2 linked regions of the Homo sapiens genome follow. The protein of the gene in region 1 purifies or fractionates together with the protein of each later gene. This does not show direct contact. Each region holds a gene or a part of one and is shown on either strand. Other genes may lie near its edges.

The links. Proteins that work in one complex are often made in the same cells at the same time.
Region 2: the proteins of TES (region 1) and LIMA1 purify together in Homo sapiens (affinity purification with mass spectrometry; 2 studies listed by BioGRID and IntAct, with this or other methods). This does not show direct contact.

Annotation. Positions count from the first base shown.
Region 1 is NC_000007.14:116,247,446-116,256,254, reverse strand, and holds part of TES (testin), read right to left. Parts: intron 7,236-8,809; coding exon 6,983-7,235; intron 6,095-6,982; coding exon 5,759-6,094; intron 4,496-5,758; coding exon 4,280-4,495; intron 3,938-4,279; coding exon 3,779-3,937; intron 1,138-3,778; exon of another isoform or gene 1-1,137. UniProt on the Homo sapiens protein: Scaffold protein that may play a role in cell adhesion, cell spreading and in the reorganization of the actin cytoskeleton. Plays a role in the regulation of cell proliferation. May act as a tumor suppressor. Inhibits tumor cell growth.
Region 2 is NC_000012.12:50,216,607-50,224,544, reverse strand, and holds part of LIMA1 (LIM domain and actin-binding protein 1), read left to right. Parts: intron 1-1,886; exon of another isoform or gene 1,887-1,910; coding exon of another isoform or gene 1,911-2,022; exon of another isoform or gene 2,023-2,059; coding exon 2,060-2,524; intron 2,525-7,938. UniProt on the Homo sapiens protein: Actin-binding protein involved in actin cytoskeleton regulation and dynamics. Increases the number and size of actin stress fibers and inhibits membrane ruffling. Inhibits actin filament depolymerization.

The sequences.
Region 1 (8,809 bases):
TCAAAATGTGGCTGCTACTCACTGGGTAATTGGTTTAGGCAGTGAAGTGAGGCCTGGTTATATATGTCCATTTCAGACCTGCATATTTTTGTTACATTGCTTCTGATTACAGAGATTATAGCTCTGTAATCTATAAGTTAGGTCAACCCAGTCTTCCCTGAGATACAATGAAAATTCTTTGATCAACACACTATTCCTGAATACTATAAAAATGAACGTTTCAATTACAAGCACATTTCTAATGTGCAGCTGCACCATGCAAGCAACTGCTTTTTGTATATATTTTTATAGCTTTATTATGCATTTAGAATGTCTTATTTTCTGCATTTCATATTAATCTTTCCATTTTAAAATTTATGATCAACACATAATTGTACATATTTATGGGTGTACTATGTGATGTTTCAATACATGTATACATAGTGTAGTGATCAAATCAGGGTAATTAGGATATCCCTCTCCTTAAACATTTATGATTTCCTTGTGATAAGAACAGTCTTTCAATATTTCTTGTTTATGTATTTTGAATGTGTTCTTGTAAAATACACCGTGTGTTTTATTCCCTTGCTTTCAGACCATGATCTATCTTCTTTTTCTCAGACCTGTGATTTTTTAAAATTACCCAAAACACACATTTTCAGTTGCAATTTACAAAAAAGAGATAACTAATGTTCAATTACACATGAAATTAAGAAAATTAAGCAAAAAGATAATTAGTACACATAAATGGTATAGAGAATTAAAGTCTGGGGTTTCATAAAATTTCATTTTACTAATAATTTGATTACCATTCATTCAAAATCTGACATGTAATCACAGGTCGAATCTACTGTTCCCTAATTCCTCAAAAATCTAAAATTGGCCCAGGCTGCGCCAAGGGCCTGGGGACTGCAGAACCCTTCAGGGAGATGATGTGCTTCACCACTTCCTGCCTGCCATTTGATCTTCCCATGTTCCTAAACCTTTAATATTTCAAAGAATTCTTATTTCCTTCAATCCCTCTTCTTATTTGTACACAGGATGTAAAAGAGCTAATGACACCTGTTGTAATGAGCTCTCTGCAGGAGTGTCCTATGAATCTGACGGATGTGAATTCTGGGGGTAACTATGGAGTTCTAGTGACTACACAGAGACAAAGTAGGTGCATCTGCCATGTTTTTTCCTTCCAGGTACTTTTTTTTTTTTTTCTCAGAAATGTTGTTTGGAGTTGAGCACTTGATTTCAGGTCTAAAAATAATTTGTATTTTCTCTCTTTAAGATGAAAAGATCTAAGCAGATCAATGCCCTGAACTAGATAACCTTCTCCAAATTTTATATAATGTAGCATGCTGTGTGGGTAGCTCTCTTTGCTGTTAGCTGGAATCTGTTCTGGCAATGGATATGTATGCTCATTTTAATATTAGGCAAAGGCCAATGGTATATCCCACTGAGAAAGTAAACATAAAAGAAATGATGCTACACACACACACACACACACACACACACACACACACACATATATATATATTTTTTTTGAGACGGAGTGTCGCACTATCAATCACCTGGGCTTGGGGTGCAGTGGCAGGATCTCGGCTCATTGCAACCTCCACCTCCCAGGTTCAAGCAATTCTCCTGCCTCAGCCTCCCAAGTAGCTGGAATTACAGGCACCTGCCACCACGCCCAGCTAATTTTTTTGTATTTTTAATAGAGACGGGGTTTCACCATGTTGGCCAGGCTGGTCTCGAACTCCTGACCTCATGATTCGCCCACCTTGGCCTCCCAAAGTGCTGGGATTACAGGCGTGAGCCACCATGCCTGGCCAAAATGATGCTATGCTATAAAACTAAATAATTTGAAAATTCTTTTATTTAAACAAATCATATCTGTGGTTATACCCTGCCATTGATTAGAAACAATGTAATACAGAGAAGCTTGTAACAGCTAAAAAAAGAAAAAAAAGCAGTTTCATCTGTTTCAATAAATTTTTATTGAGCACCTATGTTGTCCTAGTGTTGGGAACAGAATAGAAAAGGCAGATAAAAAAATCCCTGCCCTGATGGAGTTACATTCTAGTCCTTGAGACTAAAGGTCAGACAGCAGCAAAAAAAAAGGTATACATTATAATACCTTTAGTCTGTAGAAAAACTGTTGCAACAATATTCATTGAAGCAGTTTTTAGCTAAATAATGTATCAGGTTACATGGTGATTTGACGTCTTGTTCCCTAGGTAAAGGAATGACCATGGTAACCCCAAAGCGAGAAATATTAAGAACACGAGTCAGTCACTCAAACATTTTCTAAGTGCTGACACTGAAGATATAGAAAGCAAGATATAAGGCAAGCTCTACCCTCCAGCTGCTTACAGTCTAGTGAAGGAGACAGATGAATGATATTCACACACACACACACCCCCACACACCCACCCACACACACACCATTGGGAACATGGAGAGTCTGGAGGAAATGGTGGAGTTTGGGCATAGTGAATCAGGAAAGGTGTTCCGAAAAAAAGTTAAACCTAAACTGAATCTAAAGGAATAAATGTGTAGGTACAGTCAGGTAAAACAGGGAAAAGTACGGTGTATTAGAAAAACTATTAGGAGTAAGCAAAAGACAACAGTGTGTAAACTAGAAAATGATGGTGAACGTGTGGAAATGTATGATTTGCGTTGGATAACTAGTAGAAGGGACAGGAGAGGCAAGAAGGGGCCAGATCTATCAAAAGTTTAATAATTTGCATTTTAGGAAGATAATTTTCCATCATTATGGTGGGTAGCTTTTGAGCAAGATGAATGAAAGTGGAGGAACGAAATTTGAGGCCACTGCAATAGTCAAAATAACAACAAAAAAAAAGGTCTAAAGTAGAATGGTTGTAATTATAAGAATGTGAAATATATTGGTGAGGCACAGTTGATAGAGAATGAATAACTGTATCTGGGGCAATGGGTGAACGCTGAAAATTGGCATTGACATAAAAACTTGTTACCTTATCTTCACAGTACCACACTCTTATAACTATATATAACTATATAAACCATATGTAATTTCATTCCTTAGCCAGGAGTCCCTTTTACTTGATAGCTCAGGGGACCATTAACACATATGTGTTTTGCTGCATATAAAGAAGTAAATGTCTATTTGGATACTCCTGGATTATACACTTTACCATCTATGGTCAACTTTTTACCCTTTATCTACATTACCATCACTTGGCCATTATACAACAGCAGCTCTGTGTAAGCAGAGTAAATGCAAGAAAAAATATACTTTCACATTGGAATGTTTGGCCCACACAAAAATCTAAATACGCAGGCCAAGTTTTGTTATGCTAAATCAATTCAATGAGGGTTTAAGAAATAGGTATCTTACAATCTCCAGGTAGCAAAAACAAAATTCCAGTGGGTGGTCCAATAACACAAACAGAAAGCATCATATTCAAATAGAGCTAAAGAATATCAATAGCCCCTAGACACCTTTATTGAAATGGAATCTGATTGCTAACCATGAAAATAAAACAATCTCATTCCCATTAAGAATTTTTTTAAGTGAGGATTTTATTATTAAGCAGTACCTATAATTGATATTGTAAATTTCACAAGTAGAAATCTTGAGGTGGCTCATAGTCAATGCATGTATTGTTTTTGAATTGCCTTGATTTTAACACCCTGTGGTAGGAATAATTTGCTTTCTACTTAGGAGGACTGCTTTCTGTTTCCCATTTGTAAGAGGCTTTAAGAAAAGCATAAACTCAAGTCCTAAAGCAGGCTGAGGCAACCATATCCTTAGAACACTTCTCACCACAGCGTGATTCTTCACATAGCAGGGCTTGCACACGGGCTTGTCATTGACCATCACGTATATCTCCCCAGCTAGAATGCTATCACAGTCAAAGCAGCAGAAGTGTTTCAGGTGCCAATTCTGGTTTTCTGCCTGGGTATACTCATTGCTGAATATCAGCTAGGAAGAAGATAAAAATAAAGATGGATTTTTATATAATAAGAGATTTATATCTGTAACAACATACTTTCTCAGGGTCTAAAGTTTGAAAATGATAACCTAAAGCTTGAACTTATGCTATCACTTAGTTTAGTCTAAATCAATCTTTTATATTTCTAGTCTTTCATTTGTCAACCCAATTAACACAGACAGAATGAATGATATCAGAAGTTTATTTTTTAAAACTTCTTTGGATGTAAACAGAGCAACTGCTGTTTGGTCAAGTCTTGTTGCCTTCTAGGTAAAGGGACCATATGAGGGTCTAAGAGGGCACCAGCATGCCGGTGGTCCCATAGAACATACCTCGTCACAGCCAGCACATCGGGGTTTCTCGCTGTCACAGTAATGTCTGCCACAGTATAGCTTCTCATTCTTCCAAAAATAAATCATGTCAACCAGGAGTTCATGGCAGGTGCTGCAGACAAAACAAGCTGGGTGCCACAGTTTATCATAGCCAGCCCTTTCGGCATAGATGGCTGGGTCACCTTCTTTCATACTCAGTTTGCAGCAATAGCAGGACTGAAAGGGAAGCCATCCAGAACAACCTAGTCATTAGAAGACTGCCATTTCTTTTCTTTCTTTCTTTTTTTTTTTTTGAGACTGAGTCTCACTCTGTCGCCCAGGCTGGAGTCCAGTGGTGCTATCTCGGCTCATTGCAAGCTCCGCCTCCTGGGTTCACGCCGTTCTCCTGCCTCAGCCTCCCGAGTAGCTGGGACTACAGGCGCCTGCCACCACGCCCGGCTAATTTTTTTGTATTTTTAGTAGAGACGGGGTTTCACCGTGTTAGCCAGGATGGTCTCAATCTCCTGACCTCGTGATTCACCCGCCTCAGCCTCCCAAAGTGCTGGGATTACAGGCGTGAGCCACTGTGCCCAGCTAAGACTGCCATTTCTTATCATTGACTTCAGTAGAAATTCAGAGAAACAACTTTGAAGAGACATAATTTCTACTGAAATTACAAATTTGTCGATGTAGATAATAACGTATTAATAATTCTGTGAAATGGAATCTCAGCTTTCTCCCGGCTATTCAAATCTACTTCATTCACCCTGTGTGTAACAGGCATTATTTCCTGAATTAAGGTCACTTATGGAAAAAGGAAAATAGTAATTTTCAGGTCAATTTTAAGTAGATTCTCTAAAACTATCACCTCAGGGCTTATTAGTGCTCTTTTTTCAGGACTAAGCCTTATTGGTTGGTGTGCTAACTGGAGCTATGAGGAATATATTACAGCAGGTTTAGTTCTTATGTCTGTTCATCTGTGTCATAATTGCCTCCTACCATCAAGTCATTAGCAAAATACTTCAATTTCTCCCTTTAGAAGAGACTTAAAAAAAAGCTTCACTATATATCCACAAAAATTAAATTTAAGTTTGAATTTTAGGCACGTTCTCACAAGCAAAACTGAATTAACCTAAGCATATATTCCTATTTATGGGCAGCAGAGATAAGCAATTAATACCAACATTATGATTAGAAACAGACTATAGAATAATAATGCTGTCTTTGATCAGCATGCCAATACCAACTACTGTCTGTACATAAAACTCACTATCCACAATTATCCTTGATAATAAATACATAGAAAATTTGGCTTTAGACAGAAGTTTCAAACACGATGACCCTCTGTGGGAAGTCTAAACTGAATCTAAATCCTATTTATTCCCCATACTTATTCCCTTTTGGAAACTCAGAGGAATAGTCCCCAAAAAAGTTCAAAGTAAGGGAAAAAAATTCTGTAAAGTATACAAATCAGGCTAACAGTGTGACCACTCTACTTACATATTGAGTTCTTTTGTGCTCAGCAGATTTGTCCTCCATGGCCCCCACTGCTGCTGGGGTGCTTCTATCCCCTCCAGGAATGTTCATTTGTTTGGGGCCTTGGGCATCCATCTCACAGGGAAGTTTGACATCTCCTACTCCCAGAGCTTCGCTCTTATATTTCTTCACAAACTGCTCCATCTCCTTCACCTCTCTGGGAGACAACTCATGGCACTTTGAAGGGTCCTGGTCATGTGCAGGGAGCTGCTTTGCCAGCTGCTTCTTCCGGTACTGTGCCCCCTCTGAGCCTGCTACTGGCTGCTTTTCCTTGGGTAGCATCTGCATGTACTGCCTGGCCTGAACCACAAGGAGGCCAATGTTAACTGGGATTGGCCATTAGGCAGTGTGATGTTTCATAACACACATCAGAAGCAAGTTACTTAAGAAAGAAGTGGGTTCTATCCAATAGCAGCAACTCACCCTCACAGTATATTAAGAAGTTAAAACTCAAAAACGGTACACTAAATAGATTTAGTTGGGTAAAAAGTAACACTTTCTCTCCATGAAATTATATATTTTTTCAGTTTGTAAGATCTGAGTTACTACTGTTTACTTAAGCTAAATAAACAAATGTACAATTGAAAGAAAACATAAACTTTTAGGCAGACATGTTTGGAATGGTCTGTAGGACCAGGAACATTTTTATTACATAAAAAATGATATCGCAAAATTCACTTTAATGATTTAACTAACCTTAAAAGACTTCCAAATGTTTCATTTGGTTGTTATAATAGTGGAAGGAGCTTGATATAAAACTGTGATCTTTTTGGTCTTATATAGTATTAATAAAGGAAATGAAAAAAACACAAAGATAATGTTGAATATTTTTTTCAGTTCTAAACTATGACAAAAATTCTCTTCTTTACCATCTTAAGATAAATCCTCTCAAGACTAAGCTAGAAGAGTTACTAGATTGATATAAAACATCTGATTTCCATCTAATTATTAAGAACGTTAGACCATTCCCTCAAAAAGGTAAACATATCTAGGGAGTTGGAAAAATTTTATGAAGTATCTAGTCTTACATTCAAAAGACTAGAACAGGAATCAGAAGTCAAAGTAATGAGAACCCCGGAAGAATAACAGATCTGGGATGTGTGAAGTTGATTAGGTCATCAAAGAAACTGCCCCAAATAAATACTCCAGGAACTTCAATAAAGAAACTCTCTGTTCCATATCATTTACCAATGCTTGATTCTGGACAGGAGGAGCCCACTCATAGGTAACTGTATTGATGGAGACATTCTTCTTGGCAGCAACTGGATTCGTCAATATCATAACATTGCGTTTATACATGGGAATTCCATCTGACTTTAGTTTTGCAATCAGAGTGGTATACTTGGTGTCTTCAAAAAGTTTTCCCACTTTTCGATCCTCTTCATTGCTCAAGAGGACATCATGCTCTTCTTGGCCACACTTGCAGTTACGACATATTTTTCTATAATTTTGAAAATAAGTAGAAAATGATTAATTGTACCTAATTGATATTTATGTTCATACATTTATAGTTCATAAAATACTTTTAGGCCTATTCTATATCATGGTATGCAAAGGCAAGTCCTTTTTTAGGAGGGAGAATAAGTATCCATATATTTAAGCAAGAAGGAAACAAAACACGACTTTGCTTGATAAGGCTTTTAAAAGCTAGGTTGTAAAAATTGAAAGAGGGACCCAATTAAACTGAAGAGCTTCTACAAAGCAAAAGAAACTGGCAACAGGACAAACAGACAACCTATAGAATGGAAGAAAATATTTGCAAATCCTGCAACTGACAAAGGTCTAATATTCAGAATCTATAAGGAACAATTCAACAAGCAAAAGACAACCCCATTAAAAAATGGGCAAAGGACATGAACAGATATTTCTCAAAAGAAGATATACATATGGCCAAAAAATATATGAAAACATGCTCAATATCACTAATCATTAAGGAATGCAAATCAAAACGATGATGAGATGCCATCTTCCATCAGTCGGAATAGCTATTACTAAAAAGTCAAAAAATAACAGATGTTGCGGAGAAAAGGGAATGCTTATACACTGTTGGTGAGAATGTAAATTAGTTCAGCCACTGTGGAAAGCAGTTTGGAGATTTCTCAAAGAACTTAGAACTATCATTCAACCCAGCAATCCCAAAGGAAAATGCATTGTTCCACCAAAAGGACAATGCACCCGTATGTTTATCACAGTAGTATTCACAATAGAAAAGACATGGTGGAATCAACCTAGACGCCCATCAATGGTAGACTGGATAAAGAAAATGTGGAACATATTCACCATAGAATACTATGCAGCCATAAAAAAAGAATGAAATCATGTCCTTTGAAGCAAAATGAATGCAGCTGGAAGTCATTATCTTAAGTGAATTAATACAGGAAAGGAAAACCAAATACCACATATTCTCACTTATAAGTGGGAGCTAAATATTGAGTACACATGGACACAAAGATGGAACTAACAGACACTAGGGAATATTAGAGTGGGGAGGGTGAGAGGGAGAAACGTTTGAAAAGCTAACTCTCAGGTACTATGGTCACTACCTGGGTGATGGGATCATTTATAACCCAAGCCTCAGTAACATGCAATTTACCCATGTAAAACACCTGCACTGCACAGGTACATTCTGAACCTAAAATGGAAGGTGAAAAAAAGAGGAAAGCAGCAGAATTATCAGTCACTAATAATGTATTTTTGGAAATTACTGAATTAAGTTTTGTGATTTAGATGGTACCATAACGTTTCAACTGAATTTTCTAAGTAAGTATTTTAACAAATTCAGTGTGTTTTGTCAACCAAACGTGCATCTGCATTTCTGATATGATAACGAGAAGCAATTATTCATTTGATTTTTATCAAAACCAACCAAGATTTTTTCAATGAATTCACTGAAAGAAGTGGTGATGGCCCCAATAATAGACATCTTCAATTGTACCATTAAAAAAAAAGACTGATTAAAAAGTGCACACTTAAAGGGACATGTCTGAGTGTAACCCCATCTGATATTCCTTATGC
Region 2 (7,938 bases), on another chromosome or scaffold:
GAGACCTAGATGACTCATCCATTGTGTGGCACGAGACCTTACAGAGCCAAGAGTGCTGCTGGCAGTTAGGGTAGAACCAGCTTCTGGAGCTGTTCTGTAATTCCTTCTTTTCCAGCAAGAAAACTTTTTAAGCTTCTTATATCTCTGATGCATACATTCTTCCCCCAATGGATCATTTTGTAAGCTAAAATTTAAACACTAGAATCAAGCAGTTCTATAATTTCTTTTCAAGCCTTATTTCTACTTGATGAAGTGGCTTTCAAGAGTATATTCAGAAGAGTAATAGGGTGAGAGACTTAATTCCCAAAATAGCTGCTAATCCTGTTTAATTCCTAGGTTGTTTGTCCTTTCTTTCTTAGTTGAAAGACTGGTGAGTCACAGACTACAGGAGAGAAGGTATTGGAGTTTGCAGTTTGTTGGGAAGGTGGTGCTGTTCAATTTATTTAGGAGTACAGTCCTTTCAAAGTACGGGACATTTAATTTAATTTAATTTTTCTTTTTTTTTTTGAGACAGAGTCTCACTCTGTCACCCGGACTGGAGTGCAGTGGCGCGATTTGGGCTCACTGCAACCTCCGCCTCCCAGGTTCAAGCCATTTTTCTGCCTCAGCCTCCTGAGTAGCTGGGACTACAGGCGCGTGCCACCACGCCCAGCTATTTTTTGTATTTTTAGTAGAGACGTGGTTTCACGGTGTTGGCCGGGCTGGCCACGAACTCCTGACCTCAGGTGATCCACCCGCCTCGGCCTCCCAAAGTGCTGGGATTACAGGCATGAGCCACTGCGCCCAGCCGGGACATTTAATTTTCAACAAGCGTGTTTCCTCTATTATGGAACAACAGTGACAATTTCCAGGTTGTTTTCAGTCTGTCTTACATGTATAAATTAATTCCATTTTTGGCCCTAGTGAAAGTGAACTCTCTTAGATATGTAAATGTGTGTCCTTTGATCATCTGAGTGATAAGTAGTGGTATTTGCATTTGAAGCCTGCATATTTTACAACCAGAGGATCTGTAAAACAGTGAATTTCTTGATAACTGAGAATTTTTTTTTTTTTTTTGGTTGGGGGATGGCGTCTCACTTTGTCACCCAGGCTGGAGTGTAGTGGCGCAGTCTTGGCTCACTGCAACCTCCACTTCCCAGGTTCAAGCGATTCTCCTGCCTCAGCCTCCAGAGTAGCTGGGACTATGGGTGTGCACCACTGCACCCAGTTAATTTTTGTATTTTTTTTAGAGACAGGGTTTCTCCATGTTGGTCTGGCTGGTCTCAAACTCCTGACCTTGTGATCCGCCGGCCTCGGCCTCCCAAAGTGCTGGGATTACAGGCGTGAGCCACCGTGCCTGGCCCTGATAAGTGAGAATTTATACACAGATAAACTTGTAGAGAAGAGCAGGGAAAAAAAAAAGATTAAATTCTTATGAAAAATAAAATTTGACTGCTCATATGCATGTAAATTATGTCAGATATAACTAAATATTTATGCAAATACTTGGAAAGTCTGGGGACTTCTCCAGGGTTCTACAAATTGTTTCAATCCTTGCTGCCACTATCCGTAATTAATGGTATAGTTTCAGCTATCCTGCAACTATCCTGCATCTTTGTCTTATTTAAAAGAAGAAAAAAAAACCCAGCAGAATTTACCATGTTATTTTATGGCAGGTAATGATGAACTTTGCTGATGTGTAGTTACAGTGTTTCAAGCACTTGTATTTTGCTTTTTCTTTCTTGTTTTTTTCCCCATTAATCTTTGGGTAAAAATCTCTTGTTTCGCATGTAACTATCATTAGAGCTGGGTTTGCCTTTCTTCTCATTTTGTCCTTATAAGGCCATCCTGTTTTATCACTTCCTGCTTCAGCTCCTGAGTTTTTCTCTCTTCCCCTCTCCCTCTCCCTCTGCCGGGTGGATGCTTTCTCCATGTGGCAAGGCTGTAACTGTTCACAGCTGTCTGAAACAGCAGTGGACCAGGAGCAGCTTGGAGTTTTAACTTTCATTTTACAAAGAACAACATGTTTGAATGTTTCAGCAGGCAAGTTATAACTGGCATCTACTTCTTGTTCTTCTAGAACACCGAAAATCTCTCCCAGCACTTTAGAAAGGGGACCCTGACTGTGTTAAAGAAGAAGTGGGAGAACCCAGGGCTGGGAGCAGAGTCTCACACAGACTCTCTACGGAACAGCAGCACTGAGATTAGGCACAGAGCAGACCATCCTCCTGCTGAAGTGACAAGCCACGCTGCTTCTGGAGCCAAAGCTGACCAAGAAGAACAAATCCACCCCAGATCTAGACTCAGGTCACCTCCTGAAGCCCTCGTTCAGGGTCGATATCCCCACATCAAGGACGGTGAGGATCTTAAAGACCACTCAACAGAAAGTAAAAAAATGGAAAATTGTCTAGGAGAATCCAGGCATGAAGTAGAAAAATCAGAAATCAGTGAAAACACAGATGCTTCGGGCAAAATAGAGAAATATAATGTTCCGCTGAACAGGCTTAAGATGATGTTTGAGAAAGGTGAACCAACTCAAACTAAGGTAAGAATTGGGCGGGTTTGAAACTTGAGAAAGCCAATTCAAGCACTAAACAAAGCTGTTTTTCCAATCTAGCTATTTTGAGTAGAGGCGAATATGTGGTCAGTATGTCTTTTGATTCCAGTTAGATAAGTTAATAGTCTCAAATGCATTATTTACATAGATGCTAAGATTTGTGAGTCTCTGACACAATTTCATGTTAAATCAGGTTCACACTGGGATTCAAATTGGTATCTAGAAATGAAGAGAGTTTAATACCGATTGGATTATGTGTTTTTGTACACTTGCCCTTTTAAATTGTCTTCCTGTGTTCTTTATCATTTGTAGCTTTGGGGGTGGAATTACTGCTGAATAGCTCTCTGCTTGGACACAGCTGCAGACTGAGTGTTAAGGCCGGAGTTTAACATTAAGACTGAGGCTTACTTGTCTCTGCTAGCTGAATCCCTTCTCTTCTTCTCAACTTCCTCATCTGTGCCTTCCAACAAATGTTTTCTATCAGCTAAAATCCTCTCTCAGGCAAAATCAATGAAGATAGCCAGACTAGCTATAGCTTTCGGGAGTTTTGACTTGCAAATGCACAGGGTTGCGTTTTCCTACAACTGCTAATGAAATTTGATCCTTCATGTGGATTGCAGACCTCGTCCCCAGAGGGAATTACTTAACTAGAAAATGAGTTACATATGCTGGTGATTTATAACACAATCCAGAGGCCACAGAGCTGGTAAATTTTTCCAGTTTTCTCATACTTTCCTATATATCTGGCTTTGTACATGGGGATGGTTCGTTACAACAGTCGTTATAATGAAATAAACAGACCTGATGGGGAGCAAAACCATCTGTTACTCTAGATTCCACCTAGATGGGAAAGCTGGATTTTTTTTAAGCTAAATATTTGGCCCAAGTCCCTATGTTTGGAAAGTAATATAATAATATTAAGCATTCTTTCTGAGATAAAAAATAACTCATCCTGTAGTCTTCAGTTATATTAGATGTGATATTGTCAATCCCTTCCCATGACTTGCAGTGCCAGTCACTTTTCTACTTAGAATTAGAAAAGTTCTTGAATGTTTGCGGGTCATGTTTGAAGTTGTGCGAGTTTTTGACGATGTGTAAAGCTACAACACTTCTCTGTGCATGAGCTTTAGCTCTACTTTAACAGTGAAACCAGTTGGCAAGAGATGTAACCACAAAGCAGTTTTATAACGTTTCTTAACTCTCTTCCCTCTCAAGTTTTTAGACCTTTAGTCCTGCCAACTCCTTCTTTCCCCTTTATGGTTTTAATTTAAAAATTTGTTTTATTTAAATGGGAAGAAGAATTTTAAGTGGAAGGAAAAAATGTCAGAAATCCTAAATAGAGAGGAAGGGGTTTTGTTGTGACTCAAAGCACCATTGTAAGTCTCCTCCTCCCAGACCCTGCTAGGAACAGGACAGCTGATGTCATGCCAGTACACACAATGTAGATTCAGTGCAAAAGGCTGCTGCATGTTGAAACTGGCCAAAGGTAGGAAATGACTGGGACTGTAGCAGACAAAAATGCTGATTATGTGTAAGGATATGGTGAGACACTTTTTCTCATAAATATCTAGTGAGATATGGGTCAGAACAAGCCTATCTCCCTAAGGCTGCTTGGAGAGGAGAAAAACTTTCCATATAAGATCTTACTAGTCCGGGCGTGGTGGCTCAAGCCTGTAATCCCAGCATTTTGGGAGGCAGAGGTTGGGGGATCACTTGTGGCCAGGAGTTCGAGACCAGCCTGGCCAACATGGTGAAACCCCGTCTCCACTAAAAATACAAAAATTAGCCAGGCATGGTGGCGTTGCTGGTAGTCACAGCTACTTGGGAGGCTGAGGCAGGAGAATCACTTGAACCTGGGAGGTGGAGGATGCAGTGAGCCGAGATCATGCCACTGCACTCCAGCCTGGGCAACAGAGTGAGACTCTGTCTCAAAAAATATATAAAAATAAAAATAAAGATCCTACTAGATGGCTGATAGCACTGGGCCACCAGATTGATTGCTAAAGGTATAGGAAGATGGAAGAGGCTGGGCACGGTGGCTTACATCTGTAATGAGAATTTAGGGAGGCCCAAGGCAGGAGGATTGCTTGTGCCCAGGAGTTTGAGACCAGCCTGGGCAACATAGCCAGACCTCGTCTCTACTAAAAATTTAAAAATTAGCCAGGTGTGGTAGTATGCATTGATAGTCCCAGCTACTTAGGAGGCTGAGGCAGAAGATTGCTTGAGCATGAGAGTTTGAGGTTGCAGTGAGCCATGATCGCCACTGCACTCCAGCCTGGGCAACACAGTAAGATCCCTGTCCCTTAAAAACAAGAAGATGGAAGAGACATAAGATTCACCTGGGCTTCTAGGTTTCATTGCTTTTTGTGTGTGCCATTTTTAATTTCCTGATTTGTCACTTAATGGACTGCTTAGGGAGTGGAAAACACAGCCACCCTTGGTTTTATTGCTGTTTGTAAATAAGCATCATTGTCCATACTGAAAACAGTCTAGATTATATTTATTTATTTATTTATTTATTTTTGAGACAGAATCTCTCACTGTTACTCAGGCTGGAGTGTATTGGTGCGATCTCGGCTCACTGCAACCTCCATCTCCCAGGTTCAAGTAATTCTCCTGCCTCAGCCTCCCAAATAGCTGGGATTATAGGCGCCCGCCACCACGCCCAGCTAATTTTTGTATGTTTAGTAGAGACGGAGTTTCATCATATTGGTCAGGCTGGTCTTGAACTCCTGACCTCAGGTGATCTGCCTGCCTCAAGCCTCCCAAAGAGCTGGGATTACAGGCATGAGCCACCACGCCCAGTCTCAGTCTAGATTATTTTTAACAGTTCTGTCAGGTATTCTATAGTCTGAGCTCAACCTACCTGTATAGTCTCACAGCCAATCTTATACTCAAACCTTGGAATACTCATCCCCCAACTGCTACTTTTTGAATCTTTTATTCTTAATATTTCACGTTTTAACTTCAGTGTGTTTATACTTTTTGAAATGAGACCAGAACATAGTAGACTTTATAGAGAAGACCAGTTTTACCTAGATTCCAAAGGAAGAATTAAACTGCTGTTATTGTTTGAAATGCGTTTTTTTTTTGTTTTTGTTTTTTTTTTTTTTATGGAGATAGGGTCTTAACTCTGTTGCCCAGGCTGGAGGAGTACAGTGGTACAGTTATGGCTCACTGCAGCCTTGACCCCTCTGCCTCAGCCTCCCAAATAGCTGGGGCCACAGGTGTGTACCACCACTCTCAGCTAATTTTTAAAATTTTTTATGGAGACAGCGTTTCGCTATGTTGCCCAGACTGTTCTTAAACTCCTGGGCTCAAGTGATCCTCCTGCCTTGGCCTCCCAAGCTGGTGAAATTACAGGCATGAGCCACCACACCCAGCCTGAAATTCTTAAAGGATGAGAATGTCAATGACAGAGCACCTTGGCATCATTGTGACTAACCTGGGAGACAGGGAAGAAGCACGCCATGGGAAGTGTTTACATTTGGGTACAGCTGTGCTAAGTACTGTGGAGCCCATAGCCTTGAGGTAGACGGCTACTTTGCCTTTTTTCTTGAACTGTCTTGCAGAATGTGGATTTGGGGTAAGTGGTCTTGAAGCACTCATTTAGTCACCCTCAAATTAAGATTTTTACTTCATCTTTCTTGGGCCTGTACCTCCAAGATGACAAAGAAAAGAAGAAACAATGGTCACACCAAAGAGGGCCGCAACCAGGTGTACGCTATTCACTGCAGCCAATTTGCTGCATAAACTGTGCCCATTGTGTGCCCAATGACAAGGCTTATTAAGAAATTCATCATAGGCCGGGCGCGGTGGCTCACGCCTGTAATCCCAGCACTTTGGGAGGCTGAGGCGGGCGGATCACGAAGTCAGGAGATTGAGACCATCCTGGCTAACACGGTGAAACCCTGTCTCTACTAAAAACACAAAAAAATTAGTTGGGCGTGGTGGCGGGCGCCTGTAGTCCCAGCTACTCGGGAGGCTGAGGCAGGAGAATGGCGTGAACCCGGGAGGCAGAGCTTGCAGTGAGCCGAGATCACGCCACTGCACTCCAGCCTGGGCAAGAGTGAGACTCCGTCTCAAAAAAAAAAAAAAAAAAAGAAAAGAAATTCATCACTTGAAATGCTTGAAATGTAGAGGCTGCGGCAGTCAGCGATATTTCTGAAGTGAGCGTCCTAGATGCCTGTGTACTTCCCAGGCTGGATGTGAAGCTACATTACTGTGTGAGTTGTGCCATTCACAGCACGGTAGTCAGGAATCAAGGTCATGAAGCCCACAAGGATCGAACACCTTCCCCCCACTGTAGACCTGCGGGTGCTGCCCCACGACCGCCAGAAATCAAGGTCATGAAGCCCGCAAGGACCGAACACCTCCACCCCACTGTAGACCTGCGGTGCTGCCCCATGACTGCCACCGAAGCCCATATAAGGAGCAGAGTTCTTAAGGACTGAAGAAAAACTAGCCTCTGGAGAAAAATAAAAAAATTGCAATTGTACTTAAAAAAAAAAAAAAGATTTTACTTCAAAGGCCAGGCTTGAAGTTCTGAACACTTTGAAGTCTCCAATTATGAGGGATCCAGTCTAAGCCTCTGGCTTTTGCTATTTAGCAATAGGTGTTCTATGATGGGCTGATTTGGAAGGAGGGAGTCAGCCACTCTTGAGCCACTGCAGTGAAGTCACTTGATCTCAGTCTGGAGAGAAACACTTTAATAGCTAAACATTCTAGCTTTGATTTTTCTGAAGGGAATACACCTGTTTTCAATTCTGGGATTTTTGGGGTGCTTGCTTGACTGTATATGAACTTGTGATCCAAGGAAAAAATAGGAGAAAGAACAATGTTGGCTTTTTAAGTCAGGATAGTTTTATGTTTGCTACTAGATAAGGCAAAAATAAAAACTTATTTTTATAAATTCAAGAAGAAAAGTAAGGATGTTTTTATACCCTAGTGGTCAATAACTTAGTTCATAGTATTTATTTAATAAAAGGAAGGTGGCATTGGTGGTATAGTGGTAAGCATAGCTGCCTTCCAAATAATGAAAATTGATTAAAGCCTATTTCTCAGTTATTCTCTACATTTGATGAATAGATAGGTTATTTAGGTCAGGTGGTTTAGCTGAATATGATGGTTTTATTTATTTATTTTTGAAACAGAGTCTCATTCTATTGCCCAGGATGGGGTGCAGTGGCACAATCTTGGCTCACTGCAACCTCTGTCTCCTAGGTTCAAGCAATTCTCCTGCCTTAGCCCCCGAGTAGCTGGGATTACAGGTGTCCGCTGCCATTCCCGGCTAACTTTTTTTGTATTTTTAGTAGAGATGGGGTTTCACTATGTTGGATAGGCTGGTCTTGAACTCCTGACCTCAGGTGATCTGCCCACCTCAGCCTCCCAAAGTGCTACCG